Linked DNA regions of Homo sapiens: region 2 is linked to region 1. Evidence: fine-mapped expression QTL. A gene starts in region 1. The other region holds a variant in brackets. All regions are shown on one strand. Distances are from middle to middle.

The links. PIP is the estimated chance that this variant, and not a neighbour inherited with it, causes the effect.
Region 2: its variant is fine-mapped to the expression of E2F8 in skeletal muscle (GTEx, PIP above 0.99).

The regions. Positions count from the first base shown.
Region 1 is chr11:19,236,332-19,247,256 of GRCh38, reverse strand. E2F8 (E2F transcription factor 8) reads left to right here and starts at 6,312. Exons shown (of 13, transcript NM_024680.4): 1 at 6,312-6,709; 2 at 7,027-7,150; 3 at 9,125-9,403; 4 at 9,787-9,943. The coding sequence starts at 7,136. All of the region lies in intron 1 of CSRP3-AS1 (CSRP3 and E2F8 antisense RNA 1), which reads right to left. RefSeq lists enhancers at 3,966-4,535, 4,536-5,107, 5,313-5,422 and a silencer at 5,543-6,242.
Region 2 is chr11:19,196,336-19,207,260 of GRCh38, reverse strand. It overlaps CSRP3 (cysteine and glycine rich protein 3), which reads left to right and starts at 5,278. Exons shown (of 6, transcript NM_003476.5): 1 at 5,278-5,307. It overlaps CSRP3-AS1 (CSRP3 and E2F8 antisense RNA 1), which reads right to left and starts at 10,548. Exons shown (of 6, transcript NR_183675.1): 1 at 10,342-10,548. RefSeq lists an enhancer at 1-876. The variant C/A (reference allele first, on the strand shown) is at 5,665.

The DNA.
Region 1 (10,925 bases):
AAATCATATCCTGAAAACCGTAACTTTAAGGGGTATTCATTAGTGCCAAGAAGTTGGAAGAAATCAGGCAGATTTCAGATTTCAGGGAGGAGTGGATTATTAGAATGTTTGGTGACTGTTTAGAACCTTATATGGGGGATGCCCCCAGCCTGACACAGCTGATCAAGAGCCTGCTCTGTCTTCTCAGTGCCTGAATTCACAATGACTGAGGGCCACTGAGGTGTAAGGAACCCACTTATGCCAACTTCAGTATCATTCCAAGAGAAACAGGGCATCCTCCCGTGACTAAGAGGCCACAATCTTGAAGAACTCAGAGAAGCAGACAATTTGTCCAGATGCAGTCCACATCTCTGCAGAAGAGGGAGAAAGAGAGAGGGGGAGTGGGAGTAAGTGAAGAGTTGGCTTTGTTGCTGGGATCCCAAGGGCAGCCAACATGTCCTGTAGCTGGTGCCTAGCTGAGTCCCTAGGCTTGGAGCAAGTGATCCATACATATGGGATGAAAGGAGAAGAGAAGAAAACTTGGGTTCCTAGGGAAGAAAAATATCTACAGAAACTTTTAAAAAGTACTATAGAGATAGAACATTTATTTTTAAAAAAAAAATAAAAAAGGCATATTTGTTGAATTGAGGAATGGCGAGAAATCTCACACAGGAAAAAAAAAATACAATAAAAGCTAACACTTTGCACCAGACACTTTCTACTGCTTGAATATAAACTCCAAAAGGGCAAGGACTTTATCTCTTTCACTCACTGTGTATACCTAGCACCTAATTCAGGGTTTAGGGGCATAGTATAGCACTCAGTATACTATTTTTCAGTGAGTAAATAAATAAAACCGAAGAACCTAGCTAAAGTAAAAAACCTGACATTTAAAAGGGAGTGGTAATTACGAGCTCATTTTCCTAGCATTATGGAACACCAAGTGTGTGCCAGGCATTGAACTCAGTACTGAAGATAAAGAGATTAAAAGACAAGGTATCATCTGAGGTTGGTGGGATAACATTCCAGAGTAGAATTTTACTCCATCAACCAACACCTATCAAGCCCCTGCTCTGGGTCCGGCACTTTGCTGGGCACTGGAAAGACCAAGAGATGAAGAAGTCCCTCTCCCTGCCTTAAGGAGCGCACAGTGGTGTAGGTGGGAAGCATCCATAACAGAGGTGCCTATATAGGGGTATGATCAAGAACAGGATGTGAATAAATCTGCCTGGAGGGGATCAGCACAGTTACCTTTCACTACCAGCTTTAAGCAAAGAGCAGCAATCATTGATTGATCAGGAAGGTTATAGGATTCCTGCATTGAATGGGACTTTTGTTTTTTTTTTTTTTTTAAGACAGAGTCTTGCTTAATGGCCCATGCTGGAGTGCAGTGGTGCAATCTTGGCTCACTGCAACCTCCACCACCCGGGTTCAAGCAATTCTCCTGCCTCAGCCTCCCAAGTAGCCGGAATTACAGGCCCCACCAGCACGCCCAGCTAATTTTTGTATTTTTAGTACAGACGGTGTTTCACCATGTGGCCAGGCTGGTCTCAAACTCTTGACCTCAAGTGATCCACCCGCCTTGGCCTCCCAAAGGGCTGGGATTATAAGCATGAGCCACAGCGCCTGGCTCCAGTAGGACTATATTTTAGGTAATAAATTCCTGAACCCTACTCCTAGGAATCTCTACATATACTTCTTTAATGTCCTAGAACCTGGAAAAGCAGGTTTTTCCAACCCACTGATAAGCACTGGATTACATGACATTATGACAATTTTAAGATTCCATGCGCAATAATAAAATGAGAACAGAACTCAGACTCCAGCTTCGCATGAGGACTCTCAGAAAAATTTGTGTTCTATTATCCCCAAAGTATTTTTAAAATTTAGAAGCTGGCTGGGCGCAGTGGCTCATGCCTGTAATCCTAGCACTTTGGGAGGCTGAGGTGGCCAGATCATGAGGTCAGGAGTTCGCGACCAGCCTGGCCAATATGGTGAAACCCCATCTCTACTAAAAATACAAAAATTAGCTGGGCGTGGTGGCGCGCACCTGTAGTCCCAGTTACTTGAGAGACTGAGGCAGGAGAATTGCTTGAACCCAGGAGGCAGAGGTTGCAGTGAGCCGAGATCACACCACTGCACTCCAGCCTGGGTGACAGAACAAGACTCTGTCTCAAAAAAAAACAACAAAAAAAGAAATTAGAAGCAGTAATTGCTCAATAAATGGCAGCAACTGTTGCTGCTGCAGCTGAGTCCAGGGCTGCAAATGTCTATATGGGGCTCATCAGGATACATCAGGGCCTATCAGGAATTTCCCACAGGAGGTCACAGGAGAGTCTGAAGGGATTTCACACACAGCCCTGCTGCTGCCTGGGACTTACTCTGACCTAGTCTAGCTCCACAGTCAGCACAAGCCAGCTCCAGGCATGCCCACTTCCTGGGTCCCTTGCTTGTATCCATCCTCTTTAACCCTGCCCAGACTAGACCCAGCATGATTCATTTGTAGGCTTAGTACAAGGACCAGGAATAGCTGAGATCTAGCTGTGAGCAGCCACAATCCAACCCAGCACATAGGGATTTGTGCAGTTTTAAGCTCCAGAGAGCTGTTTCGTGGTATCTATGCCAACACGTACTGCAGATAAAGCACAAACCCAAATTGCCCCACTAGGTCAGGAAGCAGAGTTGGTGATATAAGCACCTAGGAGGTGGGGCAGCAAGACAGACAGAAAAGGTCAAGAAACCCATTAGCTAGAACTCCTTCCTTAGCCCTTCATCCTTCCCTGCTCAGCAGGGGAAGGTCTTGCCTGTCTTTTTGGTGATGATGAAAAGGGACACGCTTCAGAAATCCCAAATGTTACCTTTGAATGTAGGCGCCCCGGTGATGCCTATCTTTCCTCCTTACCTTTGATATCTTTTTTCATAATACTTTATTTAATGCTGAACGTGTTACACAACGTATCAGCCCTCCAAGTTGTGCAATCCAGAAGGGCGACAGCACAGAGTAGAAAAACTGGTCTAACTTCAGTGAGACACAGATTACACAACATGATGAACAAAAGACCAGAAACAAATACACAAATATTCCCTTGGATTATGTAACTAATAAGTGGAAAACATATTTGATGGGAAAATTAAAAAAAAAAAAAAGTTTCAAGCTTATGCCCTGATCCTTCCTTCTTGGTTATGCAGTAAACATAAAAGTTTTCAGTAGTCTTTTCCCTCCTTTACACTCATGCTGCATTTCAAATTGATACTCTACACAGTGATGAGTAGAACCTTTCTTTCTTTATTACCTTTCATTACATGAAAGTGTTGTTAAGACTTCAAAACTGTATCACTTCACTCTTAATAAAACCACTTTTCAACATATTCAATGAGTTTGACTATAATTTCACTTCCTTCAGTAAGACATGACAACTATCAGTAAGCAAGAATTACACTCTCACCTTCCTGTTTTTTTGTGTGTTTAGGGAGGGGTTGAAATGGTTAAGGGCTAGCCTGAGTTGGCACTAACATTGCTCTCACAGGAACTTTCAGAGGCAGTGGAATGGGATGTATGAACTTGGAGCAGGTAGACCTGGATTCTAATTCTGGCTCTGTAGCTAACTTGGCCATCAGTTTAACCCTTTTGTGCCTCAGTTTTCTTCTCTATAAAATGGGACACAACTATCCTATGAAGCAAGTAAGGATGAGCACGCCGCACAGTGGTGAACACAGCTTTCAGTGGAAAGCCCTGAGACGTTAAACACCCTTGGCTTCAAATCCCAGTCCTGTCCCTTACAGTTAGACCTTGGGTTTGTCACTTTAAAATGCTGCTTCCCTCTCAGAGTCATAACCCATGCTTTCACACCTGTGCTGAGTATGAAATGAGAGGCCATCTGTCAAGTGTCACCAGAGGTGGCTGCTCCCTGCATGATGTGCCTTACAGGTAACTGTCACTCAGACATCTGCAGCATGAATGGCCCTGTAGATCACAGATTTGAACGAATTAGTCACTATCTCTGAACACAGGTGCATGAGGCAGACTGCTTCTAAAGAACTTTAAAAGGGATTTATGGCCCACAGGACTCCGGGGCTGTAATAACTTCGGGTACATTAGGCATAGCTGAATCTATGCACTCTTGGGAGCGCTGACCATTCAGGGGGTTGGGGGAGATGACAATCTGGCCAACAGCTAGTGGCTAAAGCAGAAGCACCAACTCCCCACTTTTTGTTGATACATTTAGAACCCAGTCTTGCTCCAAAAAAGGGGTACCTGGGCTTAGTAAGAACCAGCCGCTCAGTGCTAGCAACGGTGGAACCCTATATAGTGACCTCTGCTTTATTTCAAATCTGCGAGCCACAGGCAGTGGCCCCTCTGCACAGTACCTGAAAGGCCTGCTTTCAGGTCGAAGCGCCTTCTTGAGCAAGACCTGCACCTCAGCTGGCGACGAAAGGGGGACAGGGACACGACGGCGCCAACATTCCAGGGCGGCCACACCGCAAGCCTGCGGTCGCGTTCCGCGGGGAGATGAGCCTTCGCTCGCCACGGAGACCCCTGGCCCTATGGCCGGCAGCTGCTGCGCTGCGACCCCAGCCTCAATATCATAGCATCCCCGCCCTCATCGCGTTTCGCAGAAAATAAAAATGCCTCGCCCTGCTAGTCAGCAATGGGAGAGTCACTGATCCCCAAGTTAGCGGTGGGAGTGGGGAAGTGTGGCCCCGGGCCCTGCTGGAGCCTAAAGACACGCGATTACAGAGGAGGACGAGCCAAACCGAGTCCAGATCGAGAGACCGGCGCCCAGATCTCGGCGCGGTTGGGCAACACTCAGCACCAGTCCGCAGAAAAGTCTAAGGCAGAGGAGAGCAAAGGGAGCCAACGCGGGCGCAAATGATCCAGGTGCAGCCGAGGCAGCGCCGCCGCCCCGGGCCTCGGTGTCCCGTTCTGCAAAGTGAGGACGAAGGATCGAAGTGTCTCCCCGACCCTGCTAGGGCTCTACAGGGAACCAGGCTAAAGCTGCCTGAGGCTCGGAGACCGGAAAAAGAGGGAAAGACAACAGGGAAGAGAAAGGGAGGAGTGGGTGGGAGACCCTGAGGAAAGACGGCGAGGACAGGGTTGGAGGGTTTTCCGCCTTCCTCCTCTTCCTCCTACACCTGAGTTCTCACCGCTGGGCCAAGGCCCAGAGCCCACGGAGCTTAGGCACCAGTAGCCAAGCTTCTCCCTCCTCGCGCCAGTTTCTGCGAGGCACGGGGCAGACGGTGGGCAGCACAATCATGCATGCCAGGGGTGCAAGGGGGAGAGGTCCGGCTGGAGTCCGAGGGCAGGTGAGCCGGCCTGGGGCTGGGCAGGGGTGAGATAGCCCCAAGCGGGGAATCGCAGGGCGCCTGCGGCCCAGCCCGCGAGCCCCGGACGGGCCAAATTTTATTCCCCAACTTTGAGCAAGGGGAGGGGGTGTATGCAAAAAAAAAAAAAAAGGAAAAAAAAGTTGCTGAACTTTTCCCCCAACTCTGCCGTAGAGGCGGGAGTGGAGGGCGGTGCCTGCACCGATTCGCCGGCGGCTACGGTCGGGAGGCTCGGATTGGCGCTCGGGGGCCGGGGCCGGGGCGAGCGGGCGTGGGGGAGGGGAGCGGCCCTCCCCGCCCGCGGTATCGGCTCGCGCCGGGAGCGGGTTAATTTCAAATCGGGGGCTTGGCTGCTCCTGGACGGTCACGCTCCCTCTGCCCGCCAGCCGGCCCGCCAGTCCCGGTCCCGGCGTCTCTCTCCGGCACCCACCTCGGCGCTGCGGAAAGACTGACTGCCAGGTACGCGGGCTCCCGGGCCTGAGAGGGGCAGCGGTGCTGACGAGTCCCGGCTCAGCCCCCGCCGGCTCCCGCCGTGAGGTGGACTGACAGGTCAGCGGGACGCAGAGGGGCGCGGCGCCCGGGCGACACGGCACCGGGAGAGGGCTCGGGAGGGTGGCGGCGGCGGCGGCGGCGGCCGTTTCCCGCCTCCCGCTTCGCCGGGGGCCGTGAGGGAGGAGCTGAGCTCCCGCGCAGAGGGGCGGGGGCGAACGAGGGGGAGGGGCGGGGTTGCCGTGGTTCCGGGCGCGGGTTTGCCCGCGCTCAGGCCCCGCGCAGCTAAGGGGAGGCGCCGGCCACGGTCCGACTTTCCGCGCCAAATTTTTAAATCGAAGGCGGAAGGTCCGGCCCCGCCCCTGGCGCCGTCGGCCAATCGCAGGCCCGCTTCCGGCCCTCTGATTGGTCGGGAATTGTTGTCCTGGAAACCACGATGATGCTGTCCGGGAACTGTCGGGACTGCGGCGGGCGGACAGGGCCTGGGGGAGGGGCCTTTGGCCGAAAGTTGGGGGAAGTGCACTGAGCGAGTGGCGGCCGGGGGACAGTACCTGCTTGCCTTATTGGGCAAATACAGCCTTCCAAGGTGGAGTCTAACGCCGTGGTGTGAACTGGCCACCCGAACAGGGAGTAAATAGTGCTTTGTATCTTTAAGGAAGCCCTTTTTTAAATTTAAAAAAAAAGTCTTAATTATAAGACTCTTTAAATGCCCAACTGCATACTTGGAGCTTTGGGACTGAATTTGGAACTTTCCTGTCAAGCGACCTCCCACGACTTTACTGCTGAGCCTGTGCACGTGTGTGTAAGGGGAGAAATCCAGGCATCTAGATGCAGACTTGTACCCAGTTACTTGGGGTCGCGTGCGCTCAGCTGGGACCTGGGCTCGTGCGCTTAGTCCGGAGCCCTGATCTGCGAACAGGTGGGTGCTTCCTAAAGTATTCGCTGGGGTCCGGAGAATGGCTCGCCTTTTCTACAGATGGGAGAGGGCTGTCACTAGAAATTCCGTGGGTTGCTTGAAGTCTTAGGACCGCCGATCCGTTTGCTGAAGGAATTTACTGGCATTTGTTGGCGTTCTCCGCTCAGTGGGGCGATCTCTGGTCGAGAATAAAATGTAAATCTAGTTTGTCATTTTTCGTTAGGCTTTGTTTCCGTAGCCTCTTGTCCGTGAAGGAATTTTCAACAGATCTTTTGGTTCTTGTTTTTCTCTAACTTTTTCTATTTCCTTTTTTCTTTAAGGATATTAAAACTTTTAGTACAATTGATTGGACTACTTGAACCATCGGGATTTGGGGAGGAACTCCAGATTTTTCATTTTTAAACTCTAAATGTATGAGGAATTTACAGAATGGAGAACGAAAAGGTACTTTATAACTTCAGTATTCATCATTGCAATTTTAAATTCAGTATCATCCTGATTTAACTCCATAATTTTTCCCTATCCAATGTGTTTTCTTAATGCCACAACCTTGGTTAGCCTCTGTAAAGACCTGGAAAAAATGAACCTTATCTTATAGTTTCAAAAATATATAGTTTAAAATATATACTAATTTAATTAATATAGTTTAAAAAATGAAAATTATCTTAAAAAGAAATTCAGTCTCCAATCATGTCAAATGCCCTTTCTGAATTCCAGTTGTTCAAGAATCCTCAGAAATGTTGTAATGAAACTAACAAATTTTATTATTCTTAAAAATACCTTTTCTCTCTTTATGTCTGAGACAGCTACCAAATCATTAAAAACTAGAAAGAGTGTAAAGGGGCAAACCTACCCCTCTTCAAAAATTCGTTAGTTTCATTACAACATTTCTGAGGATTCTTGAACAACTTGGAATTCAGAAAGGGCATTTGACATGTTTGGAGACTGAATTTCTTTTTAAGATAATTTTTTACCAAATTGGCAGCTTATTTATGGGGTCTGCAAAATGCTCTGTTTAGGGGGCAAACATTTTGTAAAATTACAAAAGAATTGTCTGTGGGGGGTGTCCAACTACTAATAGGTTTAAAAAAGTGAACTTACATGCATATTTCCTAATAGTTTTAGATGTTAGTCAAATAAGAGAATTACTATTGCTTCTGATAATCTGAGGCAAAGAAAAAGCCTATTGTCAGATCAGTACATCTCAGATGCACACACTGGCAAGGAGCTCCTGTTGGGTCCACCATACTGACTTCCATGTAAGAAGAGCACCATACTTGGAGTGAAAATATCTGTGTTCCACTCCTACGTGACCTCTCTCAGCCTGCATCTTCTCTTCTGCGAGCTAAGAATGCAGGATTCCATGAACATACAAACGGAAATGCACTTGATAAACCCAAGATGTCACAACATGTCCCATTTGTCCATGTTCTTAAAGTTATTTGGTCTGCCTATTATTTTACTTATTGCTGTTCCAAGCATTTTCTTTAAAATAGATAAAGATGGGAGTAGTGTGTGAAGTCCCTGGTGTCCAAAACTGGAAGGAACATAGTCTCCATTAGCCTTATTTATGAACTGCTGTTAATTTACCCTTTTGTCTCAGTGGCTATCCTGCTTCTGCCAGGATCTAGCTTTGTGGTCTTAGGTAGCTGTTAGGTTGATGCAAACATAATTGCTGTTTTTGCCATTACTTTCAGTAGCAAAAGCCACAATTACTTTTGCACCAACCTAATCATTTTACTTCTCTGGGCCCCATTTTCTCTATCTGTAAAATGAGGGAGTGGATGTTCAAAGAGCAGACTTTTCTGGTCAGAAATCCTGCTGTTGGACACTCTAGATTTCCCTGATAAATCTGACCATATGCTATCCCTCACTCTTGTCTCCTTGTCTCTCTGACTCTTCAGTGGTATTTTATTTAGCACCCACTGCATGCAGCCATTATGCTAGGTGGATAAGAATTTCTGCCCTGTAGGCCTTTACTTATTACAGTGCCATGAGTAAACAAAAGTCATTTCTAGAAGTTTGATCATTTAACATTGTCAGTCCAATTAGGGGAAGCTGAGTGAAGGGCATTTGGGAACTCTATACTGTCTTTGCTTCTCTTCTCTAAATCTAAAACTATTTCAAAATACAATTAAAATTATAAGTCCTAACTAAAGTTGTTTTTTCAGTGGTTGAAACATAAGGTGAAAACATTTATGGCTTATTGCAAAATTAAAAATGGGAAATGTAATTATTAGAATTGACAATACACATCACATGACCATTAGAATACAGTTATTAATTTCCTCAACTCTACAATCTCATTAGACATTTTTTCCTTGGCATGATTCTATTCGTTATGCAATTTCTAGAATCCAAGCTGTCTGATAAATCCTGTTTTACCATGGATTTAATTATTTACATTTTTTAAACCAGGAAAATCTCTTTTGTGAGCCACATAAAAGGGGACTAATGAAAACACCTCTGAAAGAATCCACCACAGCAAATATCGTGTTGGCAGAGATCCAGCCTGACTTTGGCCCTTTAACCACACCTACCAAGCCCAAGGAAGGCTCTCAGGGAGAGCCGTGGACACCGACAGCCAACCTGAAAATGCTCATCAGTGCTGTGAGCCCTGAGATCCGCAACAGAGATCAGAAAAGGGGTTTGTTTGACAACAGAAGTGGATTACCTGAGGCCAAAGACTGTATACACGTAGGTTTTCAGAGGACTGGTTGGAGGCTGGGGAATTTGTTGGGGGGAGGGGGGAGGTTGTAGCTATTAGAGAAGTGCCAGCAATTTAAAGCATCACCACCCGAAGGCTGTTATTAACTTCCTTCGGAGCACCAGAAAGGTTTGGACCCCAAGAAATATAGCTCTGGGAATTCTGAACCTTTGCGTTATTTTCGTTTCAGGCTTTCCTTTCAGGTTTGCCAAGCATTTTGTACTGGCCCCCCTAACCTTTTCTCCCATCCAGACTTTGCAGCTGTTGAAGCTAAGCGTGTGTAAGTTGGTGTCAGTCATCGAGCACAGATGCCCCTAATAAATCTGTCAGACTTTATTTTAGAATAAGACATTGTTTACCTTTTCCTTTGTAGGAACACTTATCTGGAGATGAATTTGAGAAATCCCAACCAAGTCGAAAAGAGAAAAGTTTAGGATTATTGTGTCATAAGTTCTTAGCACGATATCCTAATTATCCCAACCCTGCTGTGAATAATGACATCTGCCTTGACGAAGTGGCAGAGGAACTTAGTAAGTATGCAAAGAACTCACTGAAAGAATTAATAATTAAAGTGGCTTTATGGACTTAACTCCTTCAGACCCCCGCTCATCTAGCCAGTGTTTGTAAATGACACAAATAAGCCGGCATGGAAATTTTCTATCTCTAAAGCCCTCTTCTAATATAAGAATGAAGGTAAGTAGTTGCAAATTTCAGCAAATCTTGGAGGCAGAAAAGTCACAATGGAGGTTGCTTCTGACTACAGTTGTCTCTGAAGCTTTAAAGAAAGGCAATATTGTCTCATGACTTGTTTCACAAAGTTACAACTGTGAACTTTTGCTTCATTGCTCTCCCTTGCTGTTCTTGAAGAATCAGGCTGATAAATGGTTATCTTCCTAGTTGACGCTGAGGATCAGCTTCTGTGAGTGGGAACAGGACCTGTGCACTCCTGGACCTTCAGCACTATTCTGAGGACTAGTTTTCTGAATGTTTTGTGTTGGGCACAAGTTATTCCTCCTGCCCCTTTTTACTCTGTTCAAAGACCTGAATCTATTTGGAGCTAAAAAGGGGCCCGTGGTGAATTTGGGGTACCTTTGGAGTCATGTGGGTATCTTAATTTAAACCTGTGAAGTGATGTGCTGTGCAAGATAATACATTTTAATACAAAGCAATCACCCCGTGAAGAAAAGTTGCCCTTCTAATACATGTTTGTAAATATCAACTTTATTTCACATTTTAAGAATATACCGTTTAGATTCATCTACTTTTCATATATGCTTAATGGTAGCTGGGTAGGATATTCAGCAAATATCTATTAATCTTCTACTACTATGTGTCAGGCAATGTTGTAGGAGCCTGGGATACATCCGTAAACAAAAAGGGCAAAATCTCTTCTCTCTTAGAACCTATATTCTAGTGGGGCAATAGATACTGAGTAAAGGATATAGGAAGTAAGTAAGGATAATACATGCTAGAAGGTAACATGCATAGTGGAAAAAATAAATTGTAGATCAG
Region 2 (10,925 bases), 40 kb after region 1:
CTGGAGAATGCTGACAGACCCTAGAACTCCAGAAAGTGATTTAAAAGAAAATAAATTAGAGAGAACACTGAAAACAACACCATAAAAAGAAGTGTCCACTAACAAGTGAGAAATTTCAAAGAATTCCAGAGAGAAAGCAGAAGGCTGTGGATTAACAGAGCGAGAAGTCCTGGCCACAGCAGTGTAGCAGCGTGTGGCGAGGCAGGAGCTGTCCTGGGACATCCCAAACTTGCATGTCCTGGGACATGCAGAGTGGAAGGCACCCTGGGCTATCACAAGGGTGATGGATAAGAAGATGGGTCCAGGGCTAGGAGCTTTCCTCACTTTCCAGTGTGGCTCCAGACTAAGGGGCCAGAAATCCCAGGGAACTCCCCATAGAACCAGTGACCTCCAGAGAGAGTGGGACAGCTCACACCCAGGAAACACACCGCCACTGCACACACCTGGTAGCAGGCTCCATCCCTGTCCCACAGTCCCTGCGGGAAAGCTCCTTTAATCAGAGGTGGTATCCACCAAAAGGAAAACAGAAATTCTCAAATGACATGGTAAACACATATCCAAAAATCCCAAATATAGTTGAAAAACCAGCACTATGAAGATGAAACACCAAACTCAACACACAAAAGAACAAATATCCAAGAAAACATAATTGATAGAGCAAACAAAGAAGACTTCCCCCAAGTTAGTATAATGAATATCCCCAGAGAGATGCAAGATGATATGTCATTTATAAAGCAAGGATGGGCTATATGAAAAAATTAGGTATCTTAAAAATTATAAATGTAATTATTTTAAAATCAGTAGATGAGCTGAGCAGAATGTACATGGAGGAAATGCAAATTAGTTCCATGTAAGATTGAGCTAAGGAATTCTCCCTTAATAAACATAAAAGGACAAAGAAATTCTAACTTCTAATGAGAGTTTCAGCAAGAGGAAACATTACATATAGGGAGGGATTAATGAGAGAAATAATAAAAGGAAATTTCCTAAAGGAAAAAAAGTGAGTTTTCAAGTTGAACTCATCCACTAAATTTCAAGCAAAATAAAATTTAAAAGGCCGTAACACAGGAAATTGTCATAAAATTCAAGAGAAGATCCTGAAAGTTTCTAGAGGAAACAAGACAAGTCAATAAAGGAACATGAATATGACTGGCACCAAACTGTCATGTACGTTACTAAAAATAATTGAAGACAGTTTTCAAAGGTCTGACTGAAAATTATTTTGGATAGAGATTCCTAAATTTAACCAAACTAGCATTCAAGTGAAAGCAAAATGAAGACTATGAGGGGCGGGATAGTGTCCCTCCAAAATTCGTATGTTGAAGTCCTAACTCCCAGTAGCTCAGAACGGGACTGTATTTAGAGATAGGGTTCTTAAAGAGGTAATTAAGTTAAAATGAAATCATATGGGTGGCTCCTAATCCAATATGACTGCTGTCCTTGTAAGAAGAGGAAATTAGGACCCAGATACACAAGGAAGACCGTGTGCAGATACAGAGAGAAAACAGCCATCTACATTCAGAAGAAACCAACCCTGCCAGCACGTTGGTCTTGAACTTCCAGTTGCTGGAATTGTGCAAAAATAAGTTTCTGTTGTTTAAACCAGCCTGTCTATGGCATTTGTTACATTATGTGATAATTCAGTAAGTTTACAGCAGACTCTCTCAATGAATTCATCGAGAATGATTTACCTCACACACACACACACACACACACACACACACACATGCACACACACAGAATTAAAAATGTAAGGTACAAAAAGTAAATAAAGAACAGTAATTGGGAGGCTGAGTTGGTTGGATCACCTGAGGTCAGGAGTTCGACATCAGCCTGGCCAACACGGTGAAACCCCGTTTCTACTAAAAATACAAAAATTAGCCAGGCATGGTGGTGGGCACCTGTAACCCCAGCTACTTGGGAGGCTGAGGCAGGAGAATCACTTGAACCCAGGAGGCAGAGGTTGCAGTGAGCTGAGACTGCGCCACTGCACTCCAGCCTGGGTGACAAGAGCAAAACTCCATCTCAAAAAACAAACAACAACAATAACAAAACAGTAATTGAGTGAAGAAAGCACTAAAATTTATCATTAGGTTTAAGTAAGTACTAACCCATAATGAACAAAACTAATTACAATCCAAAACTGAAACTACACATCATGTTGTGGGGAGGTGTGTAAAGGCAAGTTCAGAATGTGCAAAGAGGGCAAGACGTGACGGTCAAAGTGCAGCATTCATTTCAAGCAAGGAAGCTCCTTTTATTTTTTAATGCTTAATTATAACTTTATTTTTTCCTTTGTTCTCCTAAAAAAATAAAACGGGATACATGTGCAGAGTGTGCAGGTTTGTTACATAGGCATACGTGTGCCACGGTGGTTTCTGCACCTATTGATCCATCCTCTAAGTTCCCTCTCCTCACCCATCCCCCACCCCACAGCAGGCCCTGGGGTGTGTTGTTCCCCTCTCTGTGTCCATGTGTTCTCATTGTTCAACTCCAACTTATGCATGGAAGCTCCTCTTTATTTATTTATTTATTTATTTATTTATTTATTTATTATGCTTTAAGTTTTAGGGCACATGTGCACAATGTGCAGGTTAGCTACATATGTATGCATGTGCCATGTTGGTGTGCTGCACCCATTAACTCGTCATTTAGCATTAGGTATATCTCCTAATGCTATCCCTACCCCCCCCCCCCCACCCCACAACAGGCCCCGGTGTGTGAGTTCCACTTCCTTGTCCATGTGTTGTCATTGTTCAATTCCCACCTATGAGTGAGAACATGCGGTGTTTGGTTTTTTGTCCTTGTGATAGTTTGCTGAGAATGATGGTTTCCAGCTTCATCCATGTCCCTATAAAGGACATGAACTCATCATTTTTTATGGCTGCATAGTATTCCATGGTGTATATGTGCCACATTTTCTTAATCCAGTCTATCATTGTTGGGCATTTGGGTTGGTTCCAAGTCTTTGCTATTGTGAATAGTGCCACAGTAAACATAAGTGTGCATGTGTCTTTATAGCAGCATGATTTATAATCCTTTGGGTATATACCCAGTAATGGGATGGCTGGGTCAAATGGTATTTCTAGTTCTAGATCCCTGAGGAATCACCACACTGACTTCCACAATGGTTGAACTAGTTTACAGTCCCACCAACAGTGTAAAAGTGTTCCTATTTCTCCACATCCTCTCCAGCAACTGTTTCCTGACTTTTTAATGATCGCCATTCTAACTGGTGTGAGATGGTATCTCATCGTGGTTTTGATTTGCATTTCTCAGACCTAAAACCATAAAAACCCTAGAAGAAAACCTAGGCAATACCATTCAGGACATAGGCATGGGCAAGGACTTCATGTCTAAAACACCAAAAGCAATGGCAACAAAACCAAAATTGACAAATGGGATCTAATTAAACTAAAGAGCTTCTGCACAGCAAAAGAAACTACCATCAGAGTGAACAGGCAACCTACAAAAATGGGAGAAAATTTTTGCAATCTACTCATCTGACAAAGGGCTAATATCCAGAATCTACAATGAACTCAAACAAATTTACAAGAAAAAAAAACAGACAACCCCATCAACAAGTGGGCGAAGGATAGGAACAGACACTTCTCAAAAGAAGACATTTATGCAGCCAAAAGACACATGAAAAAATGCTCATCATCACTGGAAGCTCCTCTTTTATCTGCTTTATATACTGATTTTCCTCTTATCTACAGAAAAAAGTATTCTGATGCAAACACACACACAAAAAAAATTTTAAAGCTACTATTGGTTGACCAGTTTCAGTGACTCAAGCCTGTAATCTCAGCACATTGAGAGGCCGAGGTGGGCAGATCACTTGACCCCAAAGTTTGAGACCAGCCTAGGCAAAATGGTGAAACCACATCCCTACAAAAAAATTAGCCAGGCGTGCTGGTGTGCGCCTATAGTCCCAGCTACTCAGGAGGCTGAGACAGGAGGATTGCTTGAGCCCAAAAGATCGAGGCTGCAGTGAGCTGTGATCATGCCACTGTACTCCAGCTTAGGCAACAGAACGGGACCATTTCTCTAAACAAACAAACAAACAAACAAACAAAAGCCACTATCCTAGACGATTTCTAAAGTCCTTTCTAGCTTTAACTTTCTAAAATCCTCGTGATTGCCTCGTCTTTATGATGAAGATGCCATTTAGTGAAAACACAGACCACGGATATCTCATAGGAGGCTATGCCACGGCCGTCTTTGTGAAATTACTGCAACCTTCTTGACAGTGAAATATTCTATCCTTCAACAATTGCTTTGTGGGCAGGTAACCAAAGGGCTAATATCTGATGTGAAGGCTGGATCATGAACCTCCCGGTTGGGTTCTACATGTACCTTACCTCAACATCCGGGTCAACATGAGTGGAAGGGGCTTGGTGCCTCAGTTTCCTCATCTATAACATGAAGAATTGGTCTTCACATCTCTGAACCTCTTGTCAGCTTTTCAATGCCATAATTTATATCAGTCCCTGGTGCTTGATCAAATTTAAACGGTGTGAATTCCAGACAAAGAAAAATTAGACCTCCAAAGAAAATATGGGTCTACAGAGACATATCAAGATGTTATAAATATAATGTGATGATGATAAATATGCACTGCTGTATCAAATTCTTAAATAGAAAAGGATAATAACAAAGTAAATCAAAACTTTTTAGAGAAAACTTCGTTTCCTAGGATAGATGGAGTGACAGGTCCCAAGTGATGTGCCAACCTTTTTTCTCCCAAGCTTCTTTGAAGAGATTATCTAAGTATCGTTTCAGACACCCATCACCCTTATTTTTAGCTCTGAGTTCTCTTCACGAGTGTGGTGACCTGTGGCTCTAAGTTCCAGAGGCTCCCAGATATGGCACATGACTCATTTGCAGGTACCCTGCAATGATTTCCAGGAAGGTCAGTGGGGTGGGGGCCTGGAGAAATGATTTTTGATGTTAAACCCTTAGCTCTTGTTCCTGTTCCAACCACTTGATCAGAAATGACACACTTCATAAATTGATCCCTTGGTGCCATAAGCAATTGGCAGTGCAAATAGAACCCAAGTGATTCGGTTCTCCAAGAGGCTCACAGCTGGCTGGGGGGTTGGGGGAGACAAAACTCAGGGCTTTGGTCACAGTCTATTTTCAGCCCCTGATAGCAGTTGTGTTACTCACGTCTCATTCACCCTCTCCCTTGGCCTCCCTCCTGCCCTTCCCCCAGCAGGCCAAGGCTGGTGACAGCCTTCATATATTTAAAGAGGACAAGAGCCCCTCAGACTCAGTTGAGCTGAACGGAGTCCACACAGGCAGGTGAGTGGAGCAAGGCAGACATTTGAGCTGGAGGTGGGTTGGTTCTGTGGCTGGTTTGGACTATAAAGGGTCCCATAGAGTAAGAGCACATTTTACGTCTCAAGTGCCAGCACCCTCTCTGGTTCTGTGCAAGGAGGCTCAAGTTGTACTTGACTCTGGTGTGGATCTAGCAGGTATTAAAAAATTCCTGCAAGGATGGTTAATATTTAGGGGGCTTAAGGGACCTCATAGGCAGATAAATGAGTAAAGAATTATCCTCATTATAAAACTACTTACGTGGTGGAATTACATTTCCTGTCATCTTAGTTGGAACAACTGGAAAGCGGGAGGAAATAATGGAAAGTCTGCTGACCTTCT[C/A]GTCTTACAACCACCATATAATTCATGGATGACAGACTTTGAGAAGGTTCCTGCCCTCAGGGGCTTGGTCTCCTCTTCTGCAAGGATCAATACAAATTGGCGACATTTTTTCCAAACTGTAAAGTACTGCACAGATACAAAGCGATAAGCGATTGTACTAGATGCAATATATAAGACAGCTTTCCCATGCTCAATTTACCTGGAATGGTGTTATTCAAAAGGTCGTGGTGAATGACTGAGATTTTGGGCTTGTTGATTTTAAATAGACTTTTGTATCCCAAAGATATTCAGCAACAAGTTTGCTTTTAATCTTTTGAAATTAATCAAAACTGGACCCCAAAAAGACATTGCTATGTTGAAATATATTAAAAGCTCTATTAAATGGGAGGATAATTTATCCAGTGGTTAGGATTCCCACTGTTTCCTCTAGGTTTTAGTCAAGGACTTTTTAAAATATCCCAGTGAATGACAGACATAGGTGTGATTGAGAATAAGAAGAGGTTTTAAGCAATGGTCTGAGTGGAAATGCTGCTGAAAGATCCAAGCTGCCGACTCTAATTTCTGCCCTGTTCCTGAGCCAAGGTGGTGACTCCTCCAAGAAGGAGGAGTTGAGTTACTGGTCTGAGGAACCTTGTCTCTGCAATACGATTCAATGTAATTTAATAAGCATGTATGGACCATCTCCTATGTCAGGGCTGGAGGGAGGTAGAGGCAGCTCTATGCAGGGAAGGGTATAAGTGAACAGCACGAAGAGTGGGAAATTGGGGATGGCCTGTGTCCTCAGTTTACATCTGGGATTAAATCTCAATGCTGGGTACATACAATTCATCACAATGCATGTAGAACTGCTTTATGATCCAGAAAATGTGAGGGAGTCTTATGACTTGGCTTTGTTCCCTTTCTGAACAACTCAGTCGTTTGTGGTCAGTGGCAATGAGCCCAGGCTATTGGGCAGGAGGTGTAGCTGAGCCCCAGGGCTTTGTGTCCTCCCTGGGGTTCAGGCAGACAGGTGCTCTGCAGCCCAGACACACGTGTCATCCATCAGAAACAGGAGACACAGGGCAAGGGGCCTCCTCCTTCGAAGGAGAGAAGGGGGGAAGGAAAGAGAGAAGGAGGGAGGGAGGAAGGGAGGAAGAGAGGAATGAAGGAAGAGGGAGCTGCAGCAGCATTCAGCCAGCAAATAGCCAAAATTCCCTTGGAGGAAGTGGAGACAGAATCTTGATAGAATAGAAACTCAGAAATCCTGGGATATTCAAGAAGAAAATAAAGATAATCAGTTATAGAGCCCGTTCAAATTATAGCTCTGAATATCACTTAACTTATCTGAGTTTCCATTTTCTGAACAATAAAACTAAGGGTAGCCTACCTCTATCAAAGGGACTTGTGAGAATTGAATGAGATAAAGTATAGGAAAGTACTTTTGTAAAGTTTAATATAACCGTACAAATATGTGAGAACGTTGAGAAAAGGCATACAGCCAAACCCAGTGGGTTTTGGGGGGGTTTCCTGCTAAGTACAAGCGTGCTGATAAAAGTCCAGAGGTCAGAGTGGGTAAGAAGCTGACCAGGAGTTAGAAGATAATTAATTTGTTTTACAAGAGGAAAGACCCAGGGCTAGGAATATAACACACAGGAAATACAAGTCTTGAGGCAGACAGATTTCCAGTTACAAGTGTGCTGTTCAGATATCTGTGAATAAATACTGTATAGAGGGTTGGGCTTCATGCACAAAGAGAAATGTGATGCCTGCAAATGTGAAAAACTGCAGTTATTCATCCCAGTGAAGAATGGCAGGAAGGGAGACAGTAATGGTCTTAAAGGGCATTGAGGATGGAGCCTTTTCTGAGCTTTACTGTGGGAAAGGGTTGATCATGATTTGATGGTCGTTTATGGCCTAGGCAGGCATGGAACGAGTACTAGCTTATTTAAGGGTCACAAAAAGTTATGCAAAACTCATTTTTCAGAGGAAGAAACTAAAGTTCTAGAAAGCTTAGGAATTGCCCAGCATCACATGGCTGAGAAAGCGGCAGAGCCAGGAGGTAAACTGGGATATGATGTGGTCTTTAGAAATAAATTGTAGAGGTCAAAATAGAACAAAGAGTGAGTTTTGGGAAGTAAAAGCTGGCCACGCTTCAGATATAATTTCACAAAAGGTGTAAGATGCCCATGTTCTACAGCCTTCATTTAATGTATGTCTACCATGTCTGAGTTTAAAAGGGGCTGAGAGCCAACACTCAGGTTTATTTCCATGCTGGCAATGAGCAACCTGTTCTTCCTGGGCTCTGTGAAAGGGCCTCTGGCCGGAGGACGTCATATATCTGGGTTCAGAAGCTCAGGAGGAAGCAGCCACTGACCTTGAATGTCCTACACCGAGAACTGAAGGGCATGAGCTCCCCAGACTACAGGGCCCCTGGCTAGGCATGCTGCCTCCAACCCAATCCAACAACGCAAGGGGACCGACTCTCACCCCGACCTGGGCACACCTGTCCTGGGGCACCGCACACTCCAAAGGCTGAAAAACAAAGCTGATTCACAGTCTGAACCAGAAGGGCCATGGAAAACAAGCAGGGAGTGAGTTGTTTGTTCTAAAAGAACAGACTTGAAAACTGGAGATAATGTAATAACAACAATAATAGTCATGATGCAAGTAACTACAATTATTCAATTCCTGCTATGTATTAAGTAATTCTATATGGTGTCTTAGCTATTATTATCTTCTTTAACCTGAAAACAACCTTCCCAGACAAGCCTTCTCATATTGTCTTTACATGAGGACATGCATTGAGGACACTGGGTCAGAGAATTTGAGCAACTTGCCCAGTGTTCAACAGTTAGTGTTTCTGAACTTAAGCTTGGTTCTTCCAAAGCCCATGGTTTTCACTGTGGCTATGTCATCTTTCTTACCCAAATTAAGAGTGAATAAAGGAGAGGGTTTGAGAGGGCACCCCATTGGGCAGCTTTTCTGCAAAGTGAGGTTTCAATCACTTTTCAGATCCTTAAATCTGTCTCAGGGCTTAAAGGACCCTTGAAGGGACTTCACTGTATAGCAGCCACTTGGACATCCGTCCCCACCTCAGCTGAAAATCAATAGTGCAGAAGAAATCTCCAGTTCCAAGGAAGCCCTTTCCATGTTGAACAGCCGTAACTCAGAAAGTCATTGATTTCAGTGAATGAATTCAGTTTCCCTGTTAGTCCCACCCTTGAATACCCTCTGTGTCCCATGGAGAGACAATGGATTGGTCACGTCTCAATTCCCATCAACTGGGAAGTCTGGGTGATGGAGGTGCTGACCCTTGTCCTCTCTCCAGTGTTATAAACAGGAGCATGAGATACAGAACCAGCTTAACGGGGGGTTAAATGGCAGCTCTTCCAATTACTAGCTGTGTGACCTTGGAAAAGCTACTTAAGCTCTTCAGTTCTCTTATCCATAAAAATGGAAATAAAATTTGCTCTGGGCAGCTGTTGTAAGTATTAAAAAATAATATATGTAAAGCAACTGACATAAAATAATATATGTAAAGCTTTGGAGTCAGAGAAACGTAAGTTCCAATCTATTCATGTGACACATATCAGTCCCATGAACTTGGACTAATGTAATTTCCCAAAGCCTCCATTTCCTCATCTGTAAAGTAAATGTTATAATAGCACCTACCTTGAAGGGTTGTTGTGAAGATTAAACGATACCCAAGGGCAGTGCTCCAGGCATGTTAACTTCAATAATAAAGTTAGAAATGACTATTACTATCGCTTAGATTCCATATATATATATATATATGTTCCTATGATCCAAAATCTTTGCTTCAGCCAGTGTAGACAATTGAACTCACTGCAGGAAATCAGGCATCTAGTAGGATGACCAACTGAGCTAGCACTGAGCTGAAAACGGTGGCATTGTGGCACTGTGGCTTGAGGTCTCTGCCCAAAGTCATGGCCTAAAGTTCCCTCCTGGGTGCTCATTTTATGTACCCACCACTTTTGCCCTAACTCATCATTGCTCAGCTTTATAGTTGGTAGTGAAAGAAGAAAGAAAGAAAGAAAGAAAGAAAGAAAGAAAGAAAGAAAGAAAGAAAGAAAGAAAGAAAGAAAGAAAGAAAGAGGAAAAGAGGGAGAGAAAGAGATGGAGAGAGGAAGGGAGGGAAGGAAAGGAAAAAGGATGGAAAGAAGGAGGGAAGGAAGGAAGGAAGGAAGGAAGGAAGGAAGGAAGGAAGGGAGGGAGGGAGGGAGGGAGGGAGGGAGGGAGGGAGGGAGGGAGGGAGGGAGAAATAGTTGGATTAGGAAGAATGTGCCCAAAATACACAGTTTAGTTATTCTTTTGAAAATTCAGATTGATGAATAACAACTTAAAATTGTGGGAGAACCTAATTGGTTCTCACATTTTATATTACTCTACAATTTACAGAATGATATGACAGTACTTGAACTAATAGGGTCCTCTCAGCAATAGTGAAATCAAAAGGATTATTGCCCTCATTCTAGTGAAGACACTGAAGTTCAGAGAGATTGAACGGTTTTCCCAGATCACACAGCTTCGAAGAGGCAAAATGGAACTAGAACTCCAGCCTCTGGCACCTGATCCAGTGTTTTTCCCACTGCCCCACTGAAGCACATTCCTAGTATAATCTCTTCTATGGTATTAGTTACATCTTAGTTTAAAAGTGGGCACAAGGTAGTCTCTCACCGGGATCTGAGTATCCAAATCTGGAGTCCAACCTCTTCCAAGTTGATGTCACAGGGCTGTCCATTCTATCTCATCCTCGTAAATTCCAGACTGTCCCCCATTTCAATCTTGACCCACGATTTGTCTTTGACAACATAGTCATCTCAGGGACTGGCCCAGAGAGTCGTGCCAGGTGGTATGATGGAGATTGTGACCCAGGTTACAAACAGGGCCGAGTGACGGGCAAGCCTATAATTGTATCCCACCTTCAATGACCCTTGCCAGTACCAGGCAACGCTGATAAACAAATGGCCCATCCCTTGGTACCTTGCCAGGGTAAGCTCACATTCTGGGAGTGTCTAGGGGAGTGTTGGGACACAAGAATTCCAAAGCAATGCGGGAAGCTGAAAAGGTTATGTTCATAAGCCAGGACCTAACTGGGATTTCAAATCATAGCTCCTTAATTAGCACATTGGTGCCATTTGAGTAACCTAAAGTGAAGTGGGAAAAAATAATTTCTCAATACTGCTTTAAATTCCATCATATTTCCATGACCTTCACAATGGTCCTGCCCAGGAGATACTATTATCAACATTTTTTACCCG